Homo sapiens: one gene and its partners. The protein of the gene in region 1 interacts with the protein of each later gene in a pairwise test. Each region holds a gene or a part of one and is shown on either strand. Other genes may lie near its edges. The genes, in order: ZMYND19, PTGES3L-AARSD1, KCTD13, FNDC3B, GRB10, GMEB2 and CPSF6.

The links.
Region 2: the proteins of ZMYND19 (region 1) and PTGES3L-AARSD1 interact in binary tests that used the Homo sapiens proteins (3 or more experiments, as listed by UniProt).
Region 3: the proteins of ZMYND19 (region 1) and KCTD13 interact in binary tests that used the Homo sapiens proteins (3 or more experiments, as listed by UniProt).
Region 4: the proteins of ZMYND19 (region 1) and FNDC3B interact in binary tests that used the Homo sapiens proteins (3 or more experiments, as listed by UniProt).
Region 5: the proteins of ZMYND19 (region 1) and GRB10 interact in binary tests that used the Homo sapiens proteins (3 or more experiments, as listed by UniProt).
Region 6: the proteins of ZMYND19 (region 1) and GMEB2 interact in binary tests that used the Homo sapiens proteins (3 or more experiments, as listed by UniProt).
Region 7: the proteins of ZMYND19 (region 1) and CPSF6 interact in binary tests that used the Homo sapiens proteins (3 or more experiments, as listed by UniProt).

What each region holds. Positions count from the first base shown.
Region 1 is NC_000009.12:137,584,547-137,587,512, reverse strand, and holds part of ZMYND19 (zinc finger MYND domain-containing protein 19), read left to right. Parts: intron 1-405; coding exon 406-546; intron 547-2,966. UniProt on the Homo sapiens protein: May be involved as a regulatory molecule in GPR24/MCH-R1 signaling.
Region 2 is NC_000017.11:42,960,029-42,963,528, reverse strand, and holds part of PTGES3L-AARSD1 (PTGES3L-AARSD1 protein), read left to right. Parts: intron 1-2,177; coding exon 2,178-2,337; intron 2,338-3,500. Other genes in the region: alanyl-tRNA editing protein Aarsd1, read left to right, coding at 2,178-2,337. UniProt on the Homo sapiens protein: Functions in trans to edit the amino acid moiety from incorrectly charged tRNA(Ala).
Region 3 is NC_000016.10:29,909,227-29,912,726, reverse strand, and holds part of KCTD13 (BTB/POZ domain-containing adapter for CUL3-mediated RhoA degradation protein 1), read left to right. Parts: intron 1-677; coding exon 678-767; intron 768-859; coding exon 860-912; exon of another isoform or gene 913-1,066; intron 1,067-1,169; exon of another isoform or gene 1,170-1,553; coding exon 1,554-1,749; intron 1,750-3,500. UniProt on the Homo sapiens protein: Substrate-specific adapter of a BCR (BTB-CUL3-RBX1) E3 ubiquitin-protein ligase complex required for synaptic transmission.
Region 4 is NC_000003.12:172,046,078-172,049,577, reverse strand, and holds part of FNDC3B (fibronectin type III domain-containing protein 3B), read right to left. Parts: intron 1-3,500. UniProt on the Homo sapiens protein: May be a positive regulator of adipogenesis.
Region 5 is NC_000007.14:50,590,897-50,594,396, reverse strand, and holds part of GRB10 (growth factor receptor-bound protein 10), read left to right. Parts: intron 1-1,298; coding exon 1,299-1,445; 3' UTR 1,446-3,500.
Region 6 is NC_000020.11:63,620,602-63,624,101, reverse strand, and holds part of GMEB2 (glucocorticoid modulatory element-binding protein 2), read left to right. Parts: intron 1-3,500. UniProt on the Homo sapiens protein: Trans-acting factor that binds to glucocorticoid modulatory elements (GME) present in the TAT (tyrosine aminotransferase) promoter and increases sensitivity to low concentrations of glucocorticoids. Also binds to the transferrin receptor promoter.
Region 7 is NC_000012.12:69,253,069-69,256,568, reverse strand, and holds part of CPSF6 (cleavage and polyadenylation specificity factor subunit 6), read right to left. Parts: coding exon 3,415-3,500; intron 1-3,414. UniProt on the Homo sapiens protein: Component of the cleavage factor Im (CFIm) complex that functions as an activator of the pre-mRNA 3'-end cleavage and polyadenylation processing required for the maturation of pre-mRNA into functional mRNAs.

The DNA of each region.
Region 1 (2,966 bases):
TGGGAGCTTGCCCAGGACCGGCAGCCTCTGGAGGGACGGTGGTTGCTCCCCTTGCTGGGTTTTGCCGAGCCCCCCCGGTGTGCATGGTAGGGACCACTCAGATGGGGAGCTGTCTCGAGGCCATCTGCTTAGGTGGTTTTGCGTTCCAGCTTTGGCTGTCTGTGCTCTGAAGTCCAGGGGCCGGGTCCTCCCTGTGTCCCTGTCCTGTTTGGGCCACAGATCAGGTGCTTGGGTTTCTCTCAGCAGCTTCCGCCTGAGGTACCCTCATCCAAAGGACCAGGGGCCCGATCAGATCACATGGCTGACATTTCTTCCTGGAAGGACTTTGGTACCTGACCAGAAATGTCTGTGAGGGTGGGAGGCAGCGATGCAGGGTTAGATGCAGGGTTTGCTGTCTGTTTCTAGGGAGCGGCACCGGGGGGGCGTGGCCCCGGGCTTCCAGGTGGTGCACCTCAACGCTGTGACCGTGGACAATCGCCTGGACAACCTGCAACTGGTGCCGTGGGGCTGGCGGCCCAAGGCTGAAGAGACCTCCAGCAAGCAGAGGTGGGTCTTCTCAGGGCCTGGCGATGCCAGCAGAGGCGCCTTTTGAGGAGGGCCACCGCCAAAGCTCTTGTTTCCAAGAGGGTCTCCTGTTCCTCCTCTGAGCCCTGATGCTTCTGTGTATTTTGGGAATTTCATTGTTTTTCCCCAAAGCGTGGAATCCTCCTTTTCTTCATGGGAGCGGGAAGGATCTTGATGGTGTGTGTTTTTGCATTGCTCCTCTTATAATTGGCTCTGGGAACCTCCCTTTAGCTGGCATGACAGTGGGGAGAAGGGCTGCCTGCTCCAGGGCAGGGCCAGCGTCGGGACTCGGTGTGAGCAGGGCTTCTGCCCCACACCCCTGGGAGGCATCAGCCTTCTCTCCTCACCTCAGGATTCCTTCCTTCTCTGCTCACCTCAGGATTCCTTCCTTCTCTCACCTCAGGATTCCTTCCTTCTCTCACCTCAGGATTCCTTCCTTCTCTCACCTCGGGATTCCTTCCTTCTCTCACCTCGGGATTCCTTCCTTCTCTCCTCACCTCGGGATTCCTTCCTTCTCTGCTCACGTCAGGATTCCTTCCTTCTCTCCTCACCTCAGGATTCCTTCCTTCTCTGCTCACCTCAGGATTCCTTCCTTCTCTGCTCACCTCAGGATTCCTTCCTTCTCTGCTCACCTCAGGATTCCTTCCTTCTCTGCTCACCTCAGGATTCCTTCCTTCTCTCCTCACCTCAGGATTCTTTTCTGTGCACACAGATGGGTCTTTTTGTTGTGTTCTTTTGCTAAACAGTTTTCCTTAAGCAAAGGTTTAAAGCGGAGAATGGTTCAGGGCTCAGCCCTCGGCCCCCGACCTGCCTGTGATCCTGAAAGCAGTGCTTTGCATGGGCTTCCCACCTGGGAGGGCGGTTCCTGCTGGCCCTAGAACCAGCCAGTCTGTGAACTTCATGGAGCCCTTGGGAAGAGCCAAGGGACCAGCAGGATAGGGGTTGGGAGCCCAGTTGAGCCAGGGAGTCCCCAGCCACACACGCTTCACTGACATGTTCCCCTGGCGCCCTGGGGCTTTTGGGCACGTCCTCAAGCCTCTGGGCAGCCTTTCCTGGTGCAGGCAGTGCGAACTGCCCTAGCAGATGGTTGTCAGCAACGCTGGTAAGGTTTAGTGTTTCGGGCTTGGTGATGGTTGGTGGCTGTGGGTAGAATCTTTGCAGTTGTCACCTCAGAGTCATGCCAGAGCCCTGGGCAGCCGAGGTGGAAACAGTGGGAGCACCTGACACACTGGTTGGTGATGTGGGGACAGTCCCCAGGCCTCCAAAATGCCACTCCCAAACTGCTGTTCCTGCCACCCTGGAGGGAGTCCTACAAATCCCCCCCCATCCCTTCCTCACTGGGCCTCTCAGGACGAAGGCAGAGCCTGAAGTGTCTTTCGTTCTTGTTGGGCTGGTGTTTTTTTTTCCCTGCTCTGTTTATTTCATTAAATTAATTAATTTTACGGATGGGTCTCACTATGTTGCCCAGGCTGTTCTTGAACTCCTGGCTTCAGGGAATCCTCTTGCCTCAGCATTTTTTTTTTTTTTTTTTTTTGAGACGGAGTCTGGCTCTGTTGCCTAGGCTGGAGTAGCGCGACCTTGGCTCGCTGTAGCTTCTGCCTGCCCAGTTCAAGCAATTCTGCCCCAGTCTTCCTAGTAGCTGGGGTTACAGGTGCCCACCACCACGCCTGGCTAATTTTTGTATTTTTAGTAGAGGTGGGATTTTGCCATGTTGGCCAGGCTGGTCTTGAACTCCTGACCTCAGGTGATCCGCCTGCCTCAGCCTCCCAAAGTGCTGGGATTACAGGCGTGAGCCACCACGCCTGGCCCCGCTTCAGCCTCTTGAGTAGCTGGGATTACGGGTGTGCACCACCACGCCCGGTCCTTGCTCTAATATTAGAGTTTTGACCTTCCTCATACTGCTTGTGAGTGAAGCCAGGCCTCTTACGATTGTTGAATGGGGTTTTTATTCTTTCGGGGATTATGTTAGTTGGAACTTTGGGTTGCAAGAAACAGAAACAAAGGTCAATTTGGCTGAAACAAAAATAGGGTACATTTTGGTATCCTGACTGAAATGTGGAGAGCCAGGGATGCTGCTGCCTCCAGCTCTGCGCCCCCACTCCCGGCTCCTCTCTGGGAGGCGGCATGGGCACTACCTAGCACTTGCGGACTGAAGCAGGCACCCTGTTCTAGTGGTGTCTGGGGAAGCCCTGGGATGAACTGTAGTTAGCTTGCTTAGAATCACTTTTCTACATGAAAAGGGAAGGGGAAGGGGAAGGCGTGCTTGGCAGGCAGAGCAGCATCTGTAGCATCTCCTCCTGCGTTGTCCCACATTGATACATGCTCAGTGTTGATGCTGGGATGGGCCCTTCCCAACTCCGCAAGTTCGCCCGCTGCTCACCACTCCACCTGGCAATGCCTTC
Region 2 (3,500 bases), on another chromosome or scaffold:
GGTACAACATGAGCGCAAGTGAGGTACATTGTGAAGATGGAAGAGGAGGATAATAACACCAAAGGTGGGCATTATGAGAAAGGCTTTTCTTTCTTTTCTTTTCTTTCTTTCTTTCTTTTTTTTTTTGAGACAGAATCTCTCGCTGTCATCAGGCTGAAGTGCAGTGGCATGATCTCAGCTCTGCAACCTCCGCCTCCTGGGTTCAAGTGATTCTCCTGTCTCAGCCTCCCAAGTAGCCTGACCAACATGATGAAACCTTGTCTCTACTAAAAATATAAAAATTAACCAGGCATACTGGCAGGCCCCTGTAGTCCCAGCTACTCGGGAGGCTGAGGCATGAGAATCACTTGAACCGGGAGGCTGAAGTTGCAGTGAGCCAAGATTGTGCCACTGCACTTCAGCGTGGGGGACAGAACAAGACTCCGTCTCAAAAGAAAAAAAAAAGGTGTATTAAGGTGTGTGGGCAGCGAACCATGCAGGTTATTTTCTTTCTTTTTTATTTTTAAGAGACAGGATCTTGCTATGTCACCCAGGCTGGAGTGCAGTGGCCTGATCTAGCTCACTGCAGCCTCGAACTCCCAGGCTCAAGCAATCCTCCTGTTTTAGCCTCTCCAGTAGTGGGGACTACAGGCGCACAACCAACATGCTTGGCTGCTTTTTTGTAGAGATGAGGTCTCACTTTATTGCCCAGGCTGATCTTGAGCTCCTGGCCTCAAACAGTCCTCCCACCTTGGCCTCCCAAAGGCTGGGCCTACAGGTGTGAGCCACTGCCCTGGCCTCCACTCAGGTTCTTAAGCAAATAAGTGACATGAGAGAACATGTTCAGTAGACTTGGTATTGAGAGAGTTCCAATTTCATATCAGTCATTATTATGGTGATTTTCCCAGTATGAAGATTTCCCTGATCTGCTGAAGGAAAACCTGTGACCTCAAGTATCCATAGAAGGTCTCATTTTAGACAGCATTTCTTTCAGGAAGTCTTTTTTTGATTCCCCAAGACTGTTAGGTCTCTTTCCTTTGAGGTTCTCTAGCGTCATATACTTTTTCATATTATGGCATGTTATAGGTCATATTGCAATTGTCTGTTTTCCAGCCTCTGTTCTCTAGACTCTTAAGTTCCATGAGGTACCATATCTTGTTTACATTGTATTCTTGGGCTGGCACAGTCTTTTGTAAGCAGTTGGCACTTGAAATGTTTTAAAATGAATGAACTTTTTTTTTTTTTTTTTTTGAGATGGTGTCTTGCTCTGTTGCCAGGCTGGAGCGCAGCGGCGTGATCTCGGCTTACTGCAATCTCCGTCTGCCAGGTTCAAGCAATTCCCCTGCCTCAGTCTCCCGAGTAGCTAGGACTACAGGTGTGCACCACCATGCCCAGTTAATTTTTTGTATTTTAGTAGAGACGGGGTTTCACCATGTTGGCCAGGATGGTCTTGATCTCCTGACCTTGTGATCCGCCCACCTCGGCCTTCCAAAGTACTGGGATTACAGGTGTGAGCCACTGTACCTGGCCCTTTTTTTTTTTTAAATGAGACAGTGTCTCACTCTGTCACCCAGGCTGGAGTGTAGTGGAGCAATCATAGCACACTGCAGTCTCAACCTTTTGGGCTCAAGTGATTCTCCCACCTCAGCCTCCCAAGTAGCAGGGAGTATCATGGCCAGCTAATTTTTTATTTTTCATAGAGGTGGGGTCTCACTGTGTTGTCCAGTCTGATCTCAAGCGATCCTCCTGCCTTGGTCTCCCAAAGTGGTGGGATTACAGGAATAAGCTACCATGCCCAGCCTAAATGAACATTTTTGAATCTAATTCTAATACCACTGCAAGAGGATGGAGTGGAGGGAGGGAGGAAAAATCAGATCATTTTAGAGACTACAAAAGAATCTAGACTAAGGCAAGGAGAGTTGAGGATTAAGATTCTTCGGGTTTTACTAAAATTTTTGTTGCTGTAGTTACAATCTCTTTAATTCTGTTATTCTGAAGATCACAACACATAGGTGTTTAGAATGAAAAGGACTGAGAATCCTCTCATGGAACAAAGTGGACTCATTTCACTTGGCATTGCTTTCTCCCTCTCCCTTAGGGAGCCCAGATTCTGGGTCTCTCACCCTAGAGGGTCTTTGTACCTAGAAGTTAGGGTGAGCCCTGCCTTGCCATTGATTACGTTTACTTATTTCCACCAGCCTGATGACCGTGGTACAATCAATGACATCTCTGTGCTGAGAGTGACTCGCCGTGGGGAACAGGCTGATCATTTCACCCAGACACCCCTGGATCCAGGAAGCCAGGTTCTGGTCCGGGTAGATTGGGAGCGGAGGTTTGACCACATGCAGCAGCATTCAGGTAAAGGCTGGGATGGGGGACATAACACCGGAGCAGTTGCCATGTATGGGGATGCTGTGATGACTGAGACGTAGTTTGGGTTCTCTAGGAGTTAACCTTTTGGAAAAGACAGACTATTCAGAATCAGCTGTAATTCAGGAAGGATATCCTAAATGTTATAACAGCAACATGAACAACTGAAGTAAAAAAAAGTATTAGAATAACTGCTGGATTTAGGTATTATCAACTTCCCACTCGATATCTCCATCTGGATGTCTCACAGCCTTTTCAAACTCAAAATGTCCAAAATGAAACAAAAAGCCTTCCCCTCCCTCCTGGTCTTTCATTAGCATCCTGTGTGTTCATCGCAGGGCATCAGCATGCACCTAGTCACTCAAGTTCTGGAAGTCATTCCAGATACCTCTTCAGGCATAGACAGCCAGCCAATCACTGAGTCCTGTTGGTTTCTTTTCTTTTTTTTTTTTTTTTTTGACACAGAGTTTCGCTCTGTCACCCAGGCTGGAGTGCAATGGTGCGATCTCGGCTCACTGCAACCTCTGCCTCTCGGGTTCAAGCGATTCTCCTGCCTCAGCCTCCCGAGTAGCTGGGATTATAGGCCCCCACCACCATGCCCAGCTAATTTTGTATTTTTAATAGAGACGGTGTTTCACCATATTGGTCAGGCTGGTCTTGAACTCCTGACCTCAGATGATCCGCCTGCCTTGACCCCGCAAAGTACAGGCATGAGCCACACCCCCCCAGCATGTTGGTTTGTTTTCTAAATGTCTGTCCACTTCTTTCCACAGTCACTGTCATCCTAGTCCCAGCTCCTAGCTGTCTTCCCCCTGGACCTCTCTAACAGTTTCCTAATTGATTGCCCCACATTCAGTCTGGCTCCTCTGTAGCCCATTCTCCACATAGCACCAGAACAGTCTTTTTTTTTTTGAGTTGGAGTCTCGCTCTGTCGCCCAGGCTGGAGTGCAATGGCATGATCTCGGCTCACTGCAACCTCACCTCCCGGGCTCAAGTGATCCTCTTGCCTTGGCCTCCCGAGTAGCTGGGATAACAGGTGCGTGCCACCATGCCTGGCTAATTTTTGTATTTTTAGTAGAGACGGTGTTTCACCATGTTGGCCAGGCTGGTCTCGAACTCCAGACCTCGTGATCCGCCCGCCTCGGCTTCTC
Region 3 (3,500 bases), on another chromosome or scaffold:
GGCTCACGCCTGTAATCCCAGCACTTTGGGAGGCTGAGGCGGGCTGATCACCTGAGTTCGGGAGTTCATGACCAGCCTGACCAACATGGAGAAACCTCGTCTCTACTAAAAATACAAAATTAGCTGGGTGTGGTGGCACATGCCTGTAATCCCAGCTACTCAGGAGGCTGAGGCAGGAGAATTGCTTTAACCCGGGAGGTGGAGGTTGCAGTGAGCCGAGATGGCGCCATTGCACTCCAGCCTGGGCAACAAGCGAAACTCTGTCTCAAAAAAAGAAAAAGAAAACTGATAACACAAAAGGCAGGATGTAGAGGAGGCTGTTTTAGCCAGGGGGGCTGGGGAGGGCTGGCCCTGAGGAGGCACTGTGTGACCTGCGATCTGAATGGCATGACGGACACGCCACGCTGACAGCTGAGCAAAGAAGCATCCCGGGCAGGGGCACAGCCAGTGGCCGGGGCAGGCACAAGCTGGATGTGTGAAGCAGCAAGGTGTCCGTGGGACCAAGGCCCAGCAAGCAAAGGGAGAGTGGCAGAGAGGCTGGCGGAGCTTGGAGCCTGCAGAGCCCTGCGGACCACTGAGGAGTCTGGAGTTGTTCCCAACCAGCTTTTGAAGGCTTTTAAGTGGGGGAGTACGTGGCCTTTGGTTGTGCTGTTAACCACCTTCCGCTTCTTCCCCAGCAAAAAAGGGAGACGCTGTCCCCGCTGTGCCTCATCCCCATGGTGACATCTCCCCGGGAGGAGCAGCAGCTCCTGGCCAGCACCTCCAAGGTGAGGCCCCCAAGCCCTGCAGGGTGGAGGCTCACTGGGGGGGCCTCTCCCTGCAGCCTCACCCCTCTCGTCCATCCTCTCTCCCCCGCCAGCCCGTGGTGAAGCTCCTGCACAACCGCAGTAACAACAAGTACTCCTACACCAGGTGACCGCCGGGGTGCGGGGCACTGGGCGGGACCCTGGGATGCAGCACAGCCCTGCTTCTGCCCAAGGCGAGGGCCACGGCCACACGGGGGGCCTACAAGAACATCTGTGCCTGCTCGCAGATTCGGCTTCGCCTCTTACCCCTGACGCTCTAGGCAGGTCCTTTCTGCTTCTCAGCTTCAGCTCAGTCATCAGTAAATGGGTTTGGGTGAGGACAAAGTGATAGTGGCGAGCCTATCCCAAGTGCTCTCATTCTAGGAACTGGCAGAGTCCTCCCCCTTGAGGTCAGTACTGTTGTGAGCTCCATTTTACAGATGAGGAGGTCGGGACACCAAGAGGTGAAGTAACTTGCCTAGTGTCACCCAGTTAAAAAATGGGGACACCAGGACCCCCGGGGAGGTGGCCTGGCTCCCGGTCCCTCACTGGAGCTGCTGTGCTGTGCTGTGCTGGGATTTGCTCAGCGCATGTGGCTTCCCTTCTGAGACCCGTTTAGCCTGGCCCCAGGGGTGGAGGAGGCTCTCTGTTGAGCACCAAAGCCCTGGGCAGGAGCAGAGGACTGGGAATGCATCCAGGCCCGTCTTCTGGGGGTACAGAGGGAGGGGTGCCAACTGCGCTGAGGCCTCCTGGTCCCCTGGTCCCCAGCACTTCAGATGACAACCTACTTAAGAACATCGAGCTGTTCGACAAGCTGGCCCTGCGCTTCCACGGGCGGCTACTCTTCCTCAAGGATGTCCTGGGGGACGAGATCTGCTGCTGGTCTTTCTACGGGCAGGGCCGCAAAATCGCCGAGGTGTGCTGCACCTCCATTGTCTATGCTACGGAGAAGAAGCAGACCAAGGTCAGAGGGGCTCCAGAGCCTATGTTGGGGGCTGGGGGTGGCCAGGACCAGGACCCTGGACAAAAGCAGGTTGGCAGGGGAAGGAGCCCACCACCAGGAGGCAGGAGCCAGATCCTGGGGTCTGGGGTGCACAACAGTGGGCAAGCCACCCTATCCCTGTGGGTCTCTGTTTCTCTGTGAAATGGGGGTCACGGGTTAGAGCAGGGTGCTTAGCCTAGGCCTGTTGGATGGGTTTCAAGGCTGTTTGCAACTCCTGAAATGGGGGTGTATGCATTTTTCTGTATAGGGGGTCCATAGTTGCCATTAGAAACTCAGAAGGGGTGAGGCATAGTGGCTTACGCCTGTAACCCCAGGACTCTGGGAGGCCAAGGCAGGAGGATCACTTGAGCCCAGGAGTTCGAGACCAGCCTGGGCAACATCGTGGGACCTGATCTCTGTAAGAAGTCAAAAAATTTAGCCAGGTGTGGTGGCTTGGTGACATGATGGCATGCACCTGTAATCCCAGCTACTCAGGAAGCTAAGGCAGGAGGATTGCTTGAGCCCAGTAATTTATTTATTTATTATTATTATTATTATTATTTGAGATGGAGTCTCGTTGTGTCACCAGGCTGTAGTGCAGTGGCACAATCTCCGCTCACCGCAACCTCTACCTCCCAGGTTCAAGCGATTCTTCTGCCTCAGCCTCCCCAGTAGCTAGGACTACAGGCACGTGCCACCATGCCCAGCTAATTTTTGTATTTTTAGTAGAAACGGGGTTTCACCATGTTGGCCAGGATGGTCTCAATCTCTTGACCTCGTGATCCACCCACCTCAGCCTCCCAAAGTGCTGGGATTACAAGCGTGAGCCACTGCCCCCAGCCTATTTTTTTTTTTTTTTTTTTAGACAGAGTCTCACTCTGTTGCCCAAGCTGCAGTGCAATGGTGTGATCTCAGCTCACTTAACCTCTGCCTCCCAGATTCAAGTGATTCTCCTGCCTCAGCCTCCCAAGTAGCTGGCACTACAGGCACCCGCCTCCATGCCCGGCTAATTTTTGTATTTTTTAGTAGAGACTAAATGTAGTAGAGAAGTCTCTTTAGTAGAGACTTCGCCATGTTGGTCAGGCTGGTATTGAACCCCTGACCTCAAGTGATCTGCCCTCCTCGGCCTCCCAAAGTGCTTGGATTATAGGTGTGAGCCACCGGGCCCGCCCTAGCCCAGGAATTTGAGGCAGCAGGGAGCTATGATCATGCCACTGCACTCCATCCTAGGAGACAGAGTGAGCCCTAACTCTAATTAAAAAAAAAAAAAAGGGAAACTCAGAAAGGCCCATTGCCAAAAATAGATTCTTAAAACCTCAGAATCAGATGTCTCTTAGAACATCCTCTGAGTTTGTAGATCCTGAGTCATTAATGTGGCAATCATCAAGATATTCCCCAAGCCCCTGCTCTGTGCTAAGTACTGTACCGGGCTGGAAATCAAGGGGAATGAAGTGCTGAGCAAAATACAAGCCCTTCCTCATCTGGTCCCTTCCGAGCTTACTATGAGCCACATGCCTCAGGTACACCACAGTCATCACAAGTCTCTAAGCACTCAGTGCTATTTCTTACCTCTTACCTCTGCACACACTGTTGCCTCTTGGAATTCTTTCCTTCTATCTGCCTAATGAACTTGTACTTAATCTTAAGACTCAAGCTAAGCATCACTTTCTTTGGGTCACCTTCACTCATGAACTTTCAATCCAGCAACCCCAAAGTTGGTCACACTCCCTTCA
Region 4 (3,500 bases), on another chromosome or scaffold:
CCACCCTGGACAATAAGAGCGAAATTCTATCTCAAAAAAAAGAAACAAAAAACAATGTTTAAAGGTTAGAAAATGTGACAGGTCCGAGTGTACACCTACTACTGGATTTCTAAATGACTCGCTGTGCTATTCAGGATAGATTATCTTCATGTGCTTACATGGTCTGCCAATATTAACAAACTCCCTGATTCATCTCAATATTAAAATGCCCTTTTTTCCCCTCCAGAGATCTACTTTTAAACATTTTCCTCTTAAATTTAAGTCAGTTAATAAAATAAGGAAACTCTCTGATCTCCAAAAAATGGCCTAGGGAAATCTCCATTTACACTGCAACAGCCAGATGAAGAAAAAATAACTATATACCTGCCTGAAGCAGACCAAGGGGGAGTAAAGAGGCATATGGAGACTGTGTAGGATACATCTTCAATATTTACTTTTGCATTTTTTAATTGTCATAAAATATACATAACAAAAAATTTACCATTTTCTGCATTCAACTTAGTGGCATTACATACATTCATAATGTTGTACAACCATCGCCACTGTTCATTTCCAGAAATTTTTTATCATCCCAAACAGAAATTCTAAACCCATGAAACACTATCTCTCCATCTTCCCTTCCCCCAAGCCCTGGTAATCTCTATTCTACTTTTTGTCTCTATGAATTTACCTATCCTAGTCATCTCATGCAAGTGGATATATACAATATTTATCTTCTTGTGTCCGGCTTATTTCACTTAGCATAATGTTTTCAAGATTCATTCATGTTATGGCATGTATTAGAACTGCCTTCTTTTTTATGGCTGAATAATATTCCACTGTACCAAAATATTCCAATATATAATACCATATTTTGTTTATCCATTCATCTGTTGATGGGCATGGGTTGTTTCTACCTTTTAGGTATTGTCAATAATGCTGCTATAAACACTGGCTTTTAAGTACCTGAGTCCCTGCTTTCTTTTGCGTATAGGAATAGGAATGGAATTGCTGAATCATATAGTAATTCTATGTGTAAATATTTATGAACTACAGAACTGTTTTCCACAGTAGCTTTATCATTTAACATTCCCAACATGCAATACACAAGGATTCCAGCTCAATATATTTAAGTATTCTCTAATTCACTACTTCAGAATAATGTTTACCTCTATTTCTTAATCAGAATTATTTTTCTTGAGATTAAAAAAACCATGATCGAAAAATCAGAAACAGCATCTAAAGACTTTTATTATTTTCTTTCCCATTGAATGACTTAAACAATAAAAGATATAGAAGGTATAGAATGGGTTTTTTAAAACCTTTAAAATACTAAGAGAAAATGAAGCATAATATCCTAGAAATACATTAAGTATCCTATATGTACAACTTGTACTGTTAAAAACTGGTCAAATCTGACCCCTAAGTAGACACATACTAGAAAACCTCGCATCTGAGTGACTGAGTATAAAACGTAAAATATCCAGAAATCTTTTAAAAGAAACTTACTCTTATTACTGGCAAGTTCATACAGTACCTGGAACTAAGCTGCCCAGGAGGATCTTGCTTTAGTAAAAGTAGAGGAGAAGGACATGTAATTACCTTATCTAAATACTAAACTCAGGACTCTCCACAATCTTGCCCAAACACAAAGGCAGAAGAAATGAAGCTAAAAGCAATAATGATGCTCTTAAACCTTTAACACCTGCTGTCCCCAATCTGCCATCAAATGCTTACACATGACAAAAGAAGTTAACAAGTAGCAAAACAAATGTCAATAGAAAAACTCCAAAACCAATAAATAGGCATAGTTGGAGTCTATTGGTAGAGTGGAGTGGGGTGGGGGAGGCAGATATTGTGTTTATTGTTGTGATGTATTTTGCAAGCAAATAATATAGTTCTACCCATTGCTGGTAAACTGTTTGTAGTTCACATAATAGCATTGAGTCAATCAATATTTATTTCATGGCAATCCACAGAGAGCACTGACTTTCCAGGGGCTCCTGTATCTCTATGAAAAGACCACCAGCAGACCAGCATCAGTGAATGCATTCTGCATTTTTACACTGCTTTTAAGTAAATTGATTTTCCCAAGGTGCTTAAAAGTGGTTTGTTCTTTTAATTAGGTAAATATTCCTCTTAAGATCTATTTAAACTTGATATTTACAGTAAAACCTTTTCATACAGAATAGGCAGCCAAACTTTATCCTAGCCTTGCCTAGATAATTGCAAATCCCTAATTAGCTACATCTAGAACAATGGCGTTATTTTTAATAGAGACCCCTCTTTCATAGGCTATGGGGAATCTTAAATCCCTTAAAAATAAATTAAACCATTATATTTCCTGGGATCTTAGAATCTTCAATTATTTCTAAAACATCCCACCTTTGTTCATGTATAAAGATCACTTTCTACACAATTATTTCAACAGAAAGCTTTTCATAATTGTGAGTTAGGATCATGTCAATTTAAGTAAGTTTTTATGACTAGTTGGCCTTTATGAAAATCTTTACTACTCTTTCCAGGGTCAAAACAAAGATGTATCCTTACATTCTAATATAATTTAGAAGCCTTAAAGTCTAACACAGCCTGAAGGTGCTCCAATTTTACTATTTCTCAAATTTCAGAAGGTAGCAAAGAGTTGAACTTACCACCATCCAGCCTTAGGAGTTTGGTGGTAGACACTGTTCTCTATACAAGATTCCAAAAACATCAGAACAGAGTAGAACATTCCATTAACAAAGAACCTGGTCTAGATCTCAACAAATGCATTCTGAGTCAATAAACAAGTAACTGAAATGAAATTACATTTTAAGCTCAAATAGAATCATTTAACACAAGACACACTTTGATACTTACTAGAACCTCAAATAACACTGTGACTCAACACCATCTCAGAAAAATCCCCTACCACCCTGCAAAATGGTTATTTGAAACTGATGAGGTATTTTAATGATATTATAAAAACAAAACAGGGCCGGGCAAGGTGGCTCATAACCTATAATCCCAACATTTTGGGAGGCTGAAGCGGGGGGATTGCTTCAAGCCAGAAGTTAGAGACCAGCCTGAGCCACAAAGTGAAACCCTGTCTCTATAAAAATAAAAAAAAAAACATTAGCCAGGCATGGTGGCGTGAACCTATAGTCCTAGCTATAGCCCTACTCAAGGATCACTTGAGCCCAGGAGTTCGAAGCCATAGTAAGCTATGATAGAGCCACTGCACTCCAGCAGCAGTGAAACACTGTATCTTAAAAAAGAAAAAGAAAAAAAATTAGGAGCCAATGTCTAAACTGACACTGAGTAGTGAGTGCCAAGGGCATCAGAAATTCTGATCCAACACTTACAGAATGCTAAACTTGCATATCTTAACTGGGGAGAAACAAAGAAAAATTCAACAATCGATCCATTTTCAAACTGACAAACATCCTCATCTGTATGTAGATGGCTGATCACGACTGTCTATCGATCTTATGTGATTTATACTTGGTGGTTTTAAAAACATTTCTGTCCCCTGATCTTCA
Region 5 (3,500 bases), on another chromosome or scaffold:
GTGACTGGCAGCCATGGACCATACAGGATGAGGAGGGTGTCTTGCTTAGCTTTTGTGAGCCAGGGGAAGGCAGTGTGCCACGCACTGTCTTTTCTGTGGCTGCTTGCTTCCTGCTGTGTGCTGACATCCCCACCTTACTCGTGAGGAAAATGAGGCTCATGGCTGTCAGTGGCTTTTCCTGCACCGCACTGGGGTGAGGAACAGAATCTGGGGTTGAGCCCAGCCTTCCCAGCTTCCAGCCAACCTTATATGCAAATACAGGAATTACTGTCCTAGGGAAAGTGCTGCATAGACAATCCTTTTTGTTCTTCTACTGCATTATATTATTCACACAGTTATAATTCTTTTAGCTCAAAATATAAAATGAAAAGTGATTGACATTTTAGGCTGGATGAGTAAATTAAAAAAAAAAAAGAAAGAAAGGGGGCTTTCGTGGTAGGCAGAGTGTGTAATGCCCAAATCCTACAAGTAACAAAAGAACAGCAACTTGGGACTTAGGGCATTAGGTGTGCAGCCTCTGTGTGTGAAAACTGGCTGTGGGATGTGCTGTTAGCTCTAGCAATGGTTTTAGAGTTACGAAGTGGTTCCAAGCTCATTAATTAGCCAAGCCTTAAGGCTGACCTATTCCCTGTGAACAACACGACCTCCTTTCAGCAGTGTTTTGCACTGTACTACAGTCATCCAACTGAAAACTCACTGAGTTAAAATAGGTGTTAGGAATATGATTCTCTCTGGGAGATACTGTGGCATTCCCCTGCTTTAATAAAAATAACTGCCCCATATTCAGGGACCTAGGAACGGAATTTACCTGCGTGAGCTTATTAATCCCTCATAGCCACCCAACAGTTGCTTCATCATGGAGCAGAGTAAACCCCTGGGGCCTCAGGAGTTGGCTGAGGTCGTATAGTGAGGACCCAGGTTTGTGCAGTCTTCTCGGGGCATGCTGTGTGCAGTGGGTACTTACAAGTTAACTGGTAAATGTAATTCTCATGAGCTGGGTGAACTGGGGGCAACTTCGAGCCCTTCCCCTTGACCACCTTAGGGAGCAGGGGAGCTAGCTGTCCTCAGCAGCCTCCGCAGCCCACCCAAAGTCTGTCCCTCGCTCAGGGACATGGCAGCCCCCAGCACACATCCTCTGCTCCCGTCTTTCCCGCCCCTGGTGTTTTCTAGCCTACCTTGCCCTGTGTGTCCCTCTGGAATCAAATCATGGGCAGATGTAGCTGCTGCTGGCCGTGGGCCCCGTTCTGTTCCCTGAGGTGGCAGCCTCTAACCTGGCAAGTGTTCTTGTGTCTCTCCAGTGCGAGGACGACGGGCAGACGTTCTTCAGCCTAGATGACGGGAACACCAAATTCTCTGACCTGATCCAGCTGGTTGACTTTTACCAGCTGAACAAAGGAGTCCTGCCTTGCAAACTCAAGCACCACTGCATCCGAGTGGCCTTATGACCGCAGATGTCCTCTCGGCTGAAGACTGGAGGAAGTGAACACTGGAGTGAAGAAGCGGTCTGTGCGTTGGTGAAGAACACACATCGATTCTGCACCTGGGGACCCAGAGCGAGATGGGTTTGTTCGGTGCCAGCCGACCAAGATTGACTAGTTTGTTGGACTTAAACGACGATTTGCTGCTGTGAACCCAGCAGGGTCGCCTCCCTCTGCATCGGCCAAATTGGGGAGGGCATGGAAGATCCAGCGGAAAGTTGAAAATAAACTGGAATGATCATCTTGGCTTGGGCCGCTTAGGAACAAGAACCGGAGAGAAGTGATTGGAAATGAACTCTTGCCCTGGAATAATCTTGACAATTAAAACTGATATGTTTACTTTTTTTGTATTGATCACTTTTTTGCACTCCTTCTTTGTTTTCAATATTGTATTCAGCCTATTGTAGGAGGGGGATGTGGCGTTTCAACTCATATAATACAGAAAGAGTTTTGAATGGGCAGATTTCAAACTGAATATGGGTCCCCAAATGTTCCCAGAGGGTCCTCCACACCCTCTGCCGACTACCACGGTGTGGATTCAGCTCCCAAATGACAAACCCAGCCCTTCCCAGTATACTTGAAAAGCTTTCTTGTTAAAATAAAAGGTGTCACTGTGGTAGGCATTTGGCATATTTTGTGGACTCAGTCAAGCAACCACAGTCTGTTAATCATTTCTCTATGCTCAGATGTCAGATCCTCTTGTTATTAGTGTGTCTTGTTCTGCACAGTGCAGGAGACTTTATTCCTTTGGAAAATTCACTGTTCCACAAACAGCAGGCTGAATGGCCTCGCCTCTAGATTGACGTGGGCCAGCCTCCTTGAGACACACCTGGCACCCGTCATCGGCCAGCGGTGGATGCTGCATAATCCACCTGGGTACTTCAGCCTTGCGTTTCCACAGCCTTCAGCCTGTTCTAGAACGATCACTGCCTTACCCCTGCTGCTGCAGTGGTGTGAGTCGTTTCACGGCTGATGTCCCTCGGGGGATTAAAGGATCTAAAGAGAAAATGGCACCTGGTTGTCTTCGTGCTGTGTCTCATGGGTTTCCATAGTGATAAAGACAAGGAAACGCTGCAGGGGCCACAGGCACAGGCTGATATTTAAAGATCTTTGCTTGCAGCCCTCCGTCCTGCTGAAAACCCCCATAAGCCAGTGAACACAGAGCAGCTAGAGGCTCCTCCTCTGCTGGCTTAGGGTCAGAAGTACCTCACAGTGGTTGTGGACATGGAAGAGTTTTGTCAACACAACACTTTGTCCCCGCTCCGGGAGATGAGTCAGATGGTGGCTTGAGTTGTCACTTGGTCCCCTCCGCCCCTCGGGTGGCCCCCTTTGCCACGTCCCCTTAGCTTAGTGATCAGGTGTGAGAGTGGCCATTTCCTTACCTTTGATCCCTGTAAAGCAGAAAGGACTCCTTTGACAGGCGACAAACTACTGTGGTGAGCAGAATGATTTCCTTTTTCAAGACAACACCTGCCTGGCTTCTATTAATGTGTGCTGGCCATGATATTGCCCCAAATCCGCCCCACTGAAGTGTTCCCTAAGGAACAGCATTTCTCTGCTCCTCAGTCAACCCCCGTAGCCTAGAGCAGTGTCACAAGCTTCAGTAAGGCCAGTCAGCTGGAAGTCAGTCTACCGTATAGTAACACTGTATGTCAGTCTACAGACCACACTCTAGTTGTTTTCCATGAAAGGTATACAAATGAAGAATTTTCTAGCAAAACATGTTTTTAACCATCAGTGCTCAATTGCATTTTCTTCCTTTCGCAGCCAGTCAGTCTTTCAAACTATTGACAGTAAGATAATTCTCACGTTCACACCTGGTGGCAGGCTTCACTGTAGGGACGGACATTGCAGTTACACCACGATTCCTTCCTCTTCACTGGCTCGAGGTAAACCCTTTTCAAGGAAAAACAACTCTAGGATTTCTTTTTTCTGTGTACGTAGACCAGTCCCATCAGTGTATAATCTCTCTCTCACACGCCTCTCTCCAATAGACAGCTTGTATTTGCAGTATTTCATATT
Region 6 (3,500 bases), on another chromosome or scaffold:
GTCTTGCTCTGTCGCCCAGGCTGAAGTGTAGTGGTGCAGTCTTGGCACACTGCAGCCTCTGCCTCCCGGGTTCAAGCAGTTCTCTCACTTCAGCCTCCTGAGTAGCTGGGATTACATGGGCACACCACCACGCCCAGCTAATTTTTGTGTTTTCAGTAGAGACAAGGTTTTACCATGTTGGCCAGGCTGGTCTAACTCCTGACCTCAGGTGATCTGCTCGCCTCGGCCTCCCAAAGTGCTAGGATTATGGGCGTGAGCCACCACACCTGGCCTGAGTAAAATTTTAAAGTGGCTTTTTTTTTTTAAGAGAGAGTCTCACTCTGTCACCCAGGCTTGAGTGCAGTGGCATGATCTTGGCTCACTGCAACCTCTGCTGCCCAGGTTCAAGCGATTCTCCTGCCTCAGCCTCCCAAGTAGCTGAGATTACAGGCACCTGCCACCGCGCCCGGCTAATTTTTGTATTTTTAGTAGAGACGGGGTTTCACCGTATTGATCAGGCTGGTCTTTGAACTTCTGACCTTATGATCCACCCGCCGCGGCCTCCCAAAGTGCTGGGATTACAAGTGTGAGCCACCGCGCCCGGCCTAAAGTGGCTTTTTATTCATGTTTGTTTAAAGTTCTTTATTTTGAAGCCTAAGTCTACAACAACAAAGTTATGCTAGTGAAAACATTATATTTGAGAAATACGAAGTAATTCCGCCAGTGTAAACGAATTCATCATTGTAACTTTCCTGGCTAAAAAGCATCTGAAGACAGTCTTCAGAGACCCTGATGCCCTAATGGGAAATTGCCCACCAGCAGCTGGAGGGGTTCACCTGTGAGCCCCCTTTCCCCTTAGGCGCTCTGTCCTAGATGGCCACCATTTAAATTGAGTGACAGTAAACGGCTCATCATGTTCCAGGATGTTCTTAATTTGTAAAAATTTTTTTTCCTCATTTAAACAATACATTTTCCTTCCATCACTCATTTTCGATACCCTCCTGAAACAGGAAACGGGGAATATTTTCTTGTCCCTCGCACTTAGTCCTTAGTGCTTGTGTTTAGATGTGTTCCGTGAATACTTTGAGTAGTGTTCCTGTGGAGCCCTCACTGGTGTTCTCTGGGCTCTGGGCGCTGCCCCTTCTTACCCTAAACCTACCACAGCCCTCCCCGCCACTCACCGTCCGCCACACTCACTGCTCTCCCAGGCCAGGCTGGCGTCAGTAACGCGTGCGGGGTCTTTGCTGCGGGTGGTACCCAGCTCCCCACGGTTTCTTTTTGCTTCCTTTTCTTTGAGAATGGGTCTTTCCTTCATGGTGTTTAACCACCATCCCCTCTGTTCAGATCACCTACATTTCTTGGTTCCTTGGATCTCTGGTCAAGGGTTACTTCAGAGACTGGCTGCCATTTGCGATTGGTGGCCCAGGAAATCGTAGCTTTCTTTTCTCCCCTTTATCTTGCCTGTGGCCCTTTACCTTGGAGTTGTGTGGAGACCCATGCCCAGGTAGGAAGAAGTAGAGCCCCCTGGTCCAGTGCATACCCAGACAAAAGACAGCCTGTGGAATGGAGGAAAAGAAGCTAGGGTGGCCTGAGGACCTTTTGTTCTCTTGCGGACTTCCTCTCCCTAAGACATTCAGAAAAATGTTCCCATGCTGGAAAATGTCGGTTGAGTAAGATTTAGCAAGAACCTTGAGACCTGAAGGCACATTTTGTGATCGATTGTTCAGTTTGGGTGAGTTAGTTCTGGCATTGAAGGCATAATTGCAGAGGCCTGGCTGGGCTATGAGTGCCTCCCCTTAGTGAGTGCAGGGCCAGACTCTCCGCAGGGGACCACTGCGTGCCAGGTTGGGGTGGACCCACTCCTGTCCTTAGACACACTTGTTTGTTACAGTCCTAGGGGCAGGTGATGTTATTTTTATATTAACAATGATGATTTTAAAAGTTCTGGAAGATTTTATTTTCTTTCTTTTTTCTTTTCTTTCTTTCTTTTTTTTGTGACAAGGTCTTGATCTGTTGCCCAGGCTGGAGCGCAGTGGCACAACCATGGCTCACTGCAGCCTTGACCTCCTGGGCTTAAGTGATCCTCCTGCCTCAGCCTCCAGAGTAGCTGCAACTACAGGCGTGCACACCACCATGCCTGGCTATTTTTTATTATTTATTTAGCAGAGATGGGGTGTTGCTGTGTTGCCCAGGCTGGTCTCAAACCCCTGAGCTCAAGCATTCCTCTTGCCTTGGCCTCCCAAAGTCCTGGGATTACAGGTGTGACACCATGCCTGGCCATGAAAATTTTTCTTTGTTTAAAAAGTTTTTATATTCTGTACTTTCTAGTCTATATCTAATCCTAATGAGTCATTCTATTATAGTAGCATTACAGTGTTTTTATTACGGTAAAATATACATAACATAAAATTTAACCATTTTAAACTTTTTTTTTTTTTTTTTTTTTTTTTTTTTTGAGATGGAGTTTCGCTCTTGTTGCCCAGGCTGGAGTGCAGTGGCACGATCTCGGCTCACTGCAACCTCTGCCTCCTGGGTTCAAGCAGGTCTCCTGCCCCAGCCTCCCAAGTAGCTGGGACTACAGGTGCCTGCCACCATGCCTGGCTAATTTTTAGTATTTTTAGTCAAGACAGGATTTCACTGTGTTGGCCAGGATGGTCTCGAACTCCTGACCTCAGGCGATCCGCCTCCCAAAGTGCTGGGATTACAGGCGTGAGCCACCACGCCCAGCCCATTTTAACTGTTTTTAAATGTGTGGTTCAGCACCATTCAGAACAGCCACAGTGATTGTGCAGCCATCACCGCCGTCCATTTCCAGAGCTTTTCATCATCCCAAACAGAAATTCTGTACTCATTAAAGAACAACTCCCTGTACTCCCTCCCCCAGCCCCTGGTCACTTCTGTTCTACTTTCTTTCTTTTTCGTTTTTTGAGAGAGTTCTCACTCTGTTGCCCAGACTGGAGTGCGGTGGTGTGATCACAGCTCATTGCAGCCTCAATCTCCTAGGCTCAAACGATCCTCCAGCCCCGCCTTCCGAGTAGCTGAGACTATCCCAGCTTTGTGTATTTTCTTTTGGTTGTCGTTTTTAATTTTCACATTTCTGTTTGGTTATAACTCCTGTTTCTATACCAAGATTTTCTTTCCACTTGGTTGACAATGTTTGCTTTCCTCTTGGAGCTGGTCCGATAGCACCTGAAAGTCTCTGGATTCTGCGTTCAAGAGCCAGCTTCTCTTGTGTATTTGTTCCTTTGAGAATCAACCAGACTACCCTTTGCCAGGAAGTTTGATCGTGTTCTGGATGCTTTGACTACTGTGCTATGGACTCTAGGTCTTGTTTTAAGTTTCACAGAGAATGTAGACTTTTTTTTTTCATAGCAAGAAATCGACCTGGTTAGGTTCAGGCTGCAAATTTTGCACCCCGTTCCTGTGTCTGTGTTCTTAGGCCAGTTTATTTTAGAGACTTTCCAGTGCACTGTGGATCTGTCCCATATGCGCCACTGGGGCCCATCTGAGACCTGGGCAGT
Region 7 (3,500 bases), on another chromosome or scaffold:
TAATCCCAGCTGCTTAGAAGGTTGAGGCACGAGGATTGCTTGAGCCCAGGAGTTTGAGGCTACAGTAACCTATAATCACACTACTGCACTCCAGCCTGGGCAACACAGTGAGATCCTGTCTCTAAAAATAAATAATTTTAAAAACTAAAAATATTTCTTAACTATACGAGTACACATTTTTGTTCATCTTGTATAACATACCATAGAATTCAGTCATTCAAAATATATAATTCAGTGGTTTTTAGTATTTCACAGTGTTATAACCACCACCATAATCAATTTTAAAACATTTTCATCACCCCAAAAAGAAACTCCATATCCATTAGCCATCGCTCCCATTCCTTCCCATCCCTGTACCCTATGGAACCACTAAACCTAATTTCTGTCTCTGGACTGGCCTATCCTAGACATTTCATCTAAATGGAATCATACAATAGGAGGTCCCTTGTGACCAGCCTTCTTTAACTAGCATGTTTTCAAGCTTCATCCACTGTTACAGCATGCATCACCACTTACTTTTATGGGTGAATAATTTTCCATTATAAATATACAACATTAAAAGAAATGTATCCATCAGTTCATGGACATTTGGGTTGCTTCCACTTTTTGCTACAATAAAAAGATGTACAATATCATTAACTATTGGGGAAGTGCAAATCAAAACCACAAGATACCACCCCATACCCACTAGGGTGGCTATAATCAAAAAGACAAGTATTAAAGATGTGGAGAGGCCGGGTGCAGTGGCTCACGCCTATAATCTCAGCACTTTGGGAGGCCAAGGCAGGAGGATCATGAGGTCAGGAGTTCAAGACCAGCCTGACCAACATGGTGAAACCCCGTCTCTACTAAAAATTCAAAAATTAGCCAGGCATGGTGGCGTGTGCCTGTAGTCCCACGCTGGGAGGCTGAGACAGGAGAATCGCTTGAACCTGGGAGGCAGAAGTTGCAATGAGCCAAGATTGCGCCACTGCACTCCAGCCTGGGTGACAGAGTGAGACTCTGTCTCAATAAATAAATAAATAAATAAATATGTGGAGAAACTGGAACCATTGCACATTGCTGATGAGCACGTATTAATAAAATGGCACAATGCCTCTGGCAAATAATCTGGTAATTCCTCAAACATTTAAACATAGAGTTACTATATTAACCCAGTAATTCCATTCCTAGGTACACATCCAACAGAACTGAAAATACATGTTCACACAAAATGGGTACACAAATATTCACAGGGGCATTTTCCTTAATAGCCAAAAGTGGAAATAACCTAGACGTCCATCGACTGATAGATTAAAAGAAAAAAGTGCTATATCCATGTAGTGGAATATTACTCAGCCATAAAAAGAAATGCTGATGCATGCTTCAACATGGATGAACCTTAAAATCATTATGCTAAGGAAAAAAGCCAGTCACATAGGACTACGTATTTTATGATTCCATTTAGATGAAATGTCCAGAACAGGCATATCCAGAGCACGTTAGCAGTTGCCAGCAGATAGGAAGAGAGGAAATGGGAGTGACTGCTAACCAGGTACAAGGTTCCTTCTTGGAGTGATGAAATGTTCTGGAATGAGACAGTGGTAATGGTTGCTAAACTTCATAAATATAATAAATTATCATTGAATTGTACATTTAAAAGCCTGCATTTTATGGCATATGAATTATACCTCAAAAAGAAAAACAAATTTAAAATAATCAGAATGATTACCAATTCGTATAGTTACAGGATATTCTAAATTATTTGAGGGAGGGAGGGTCTTAGTAGCTTAAGAAGCTTAAGCTCTTTTCCCCCTAATGTTCAATATGATCTTTTAAATTATCCTTCTTATTTTAGTCAACAAGTTCTGCTGTTTGCACCAGGATTATCTTGGGTCACAACATTTAGAAAAAACTAAATTAATTTAACAAATATTTATTAAGCACCACTTCTTATACGCAAGGTACCATTCTAGAGCTGGAGAAGTAATAGAGAACAAAACAAAATCTCTGTTCTCATTAAGCTTAAAGGCTTGGAAGAGGAGACAACAAACGAGTAAAATATATCAGAGCAGAAATAAAGGAAACAGGATAGGAAGGTGCTACTTTGCACAAGATGGTCATGGAAGAAAACTCTTAAACAGTTTGAGTCCTGAATGAAGTCAAAGAGTAAGCCATGTGGATATTTGAGGGGGAAAAGTAAACCAAGAAGAGAAAACAGCTAAAGGTCCTAGGTAGGAATTGGTCTGGCCAACAGCAAAGAGACTAATGTGGCTGAAAAAGAGTGGTAGGATAGGGTTAGAAAGGTGGTGGGAAAACAGACCAGAAAGTACCTTGTAGACAATGGTAAAGAATGAGACAGACAGGAAACCATGAGAAGATTGAGCAGAATGTCATTTTTTTTTTAGAACTTCTGTTATGTGGAGTACAGACTGTAGGGGGCAGTCTATACTTCCAGTTAGGAAGCTACTGCCAAAGTTTAAGTGAGAGATGATAGTGGCTTTGACCAAGTGGTATAAGTAAAGTTAGTGAGAAGTATTCAGACTCTGCATATATTTTGAAAATATTCTCAGTTTAGTATAAATTGGTATAATCTTCTAAGATAAGTAAGCAATATAAGAAATAAGAAAATTCTTTATCATTGTGCATCTAACAATTTATCCTTAAAAGAAAATCCAAAATCTGTACCAAAAGACTTATATAAAATGATGTCTGCTGCAACATTATTTACAATAGGCAAAAGTGGAAACCACCACGATAACCAAAAATAAGAAAGGTAAATTACAGTAGCATACCAGGTATGATGCAAAAGAATTAGACATTAGAGAGGATGTGTATTTATTTTTATTCCTTATATCAAACATATAAAACACATGAATTATAATTCCATTATTTATTTATTTATTTATTTTTAGGAAAAAGCCCAAAAGAATCTTCACTAAAATGTTAAAAGTAAACATCAATGAATGGTAGGACAGTGGTATTTTATTTTCTTACTTTTAGATATCTGTATTTATAATGTTCTCATGCTGAGGCTATCCCACTTGTATAGTTTAGTAGTGAAATAAAGCAAAATATCCATGTAACACATTATTCAGTTGCCCATCTTCTCCCATCTCTTAATCACAGGGAGAGTAATGGTTCTTAAACTGTCATTTCAACAACCATTTCAACCACAGATAGAGAAAACTTGGGAAAAATAGAAAATAAATCTGTCCACATTTCCACTCTACTGGTTTTAGTGTGTTAGGTAATAGGGTACGTAAAATGAAAAGTATCAATCTTTGCCCAAGAACCTCCTTCCAATGTAAACAATCATGTGTTGTTTGTATACATGTGTATACATGTGTAATTAACATTAACTTAAAGGAAAGTTAACTTGTAAAAACTGTATCACTAGCTACTAAATCAAAAAGAAAGAAAAAAAAAACTTACCCCTTTGACTGGCCATTTGCCCGATTTTCAAAAAATTTTATCTCCAAAATATCATTTACTCCCAAAGAATGAACTGCTTCAGTTAA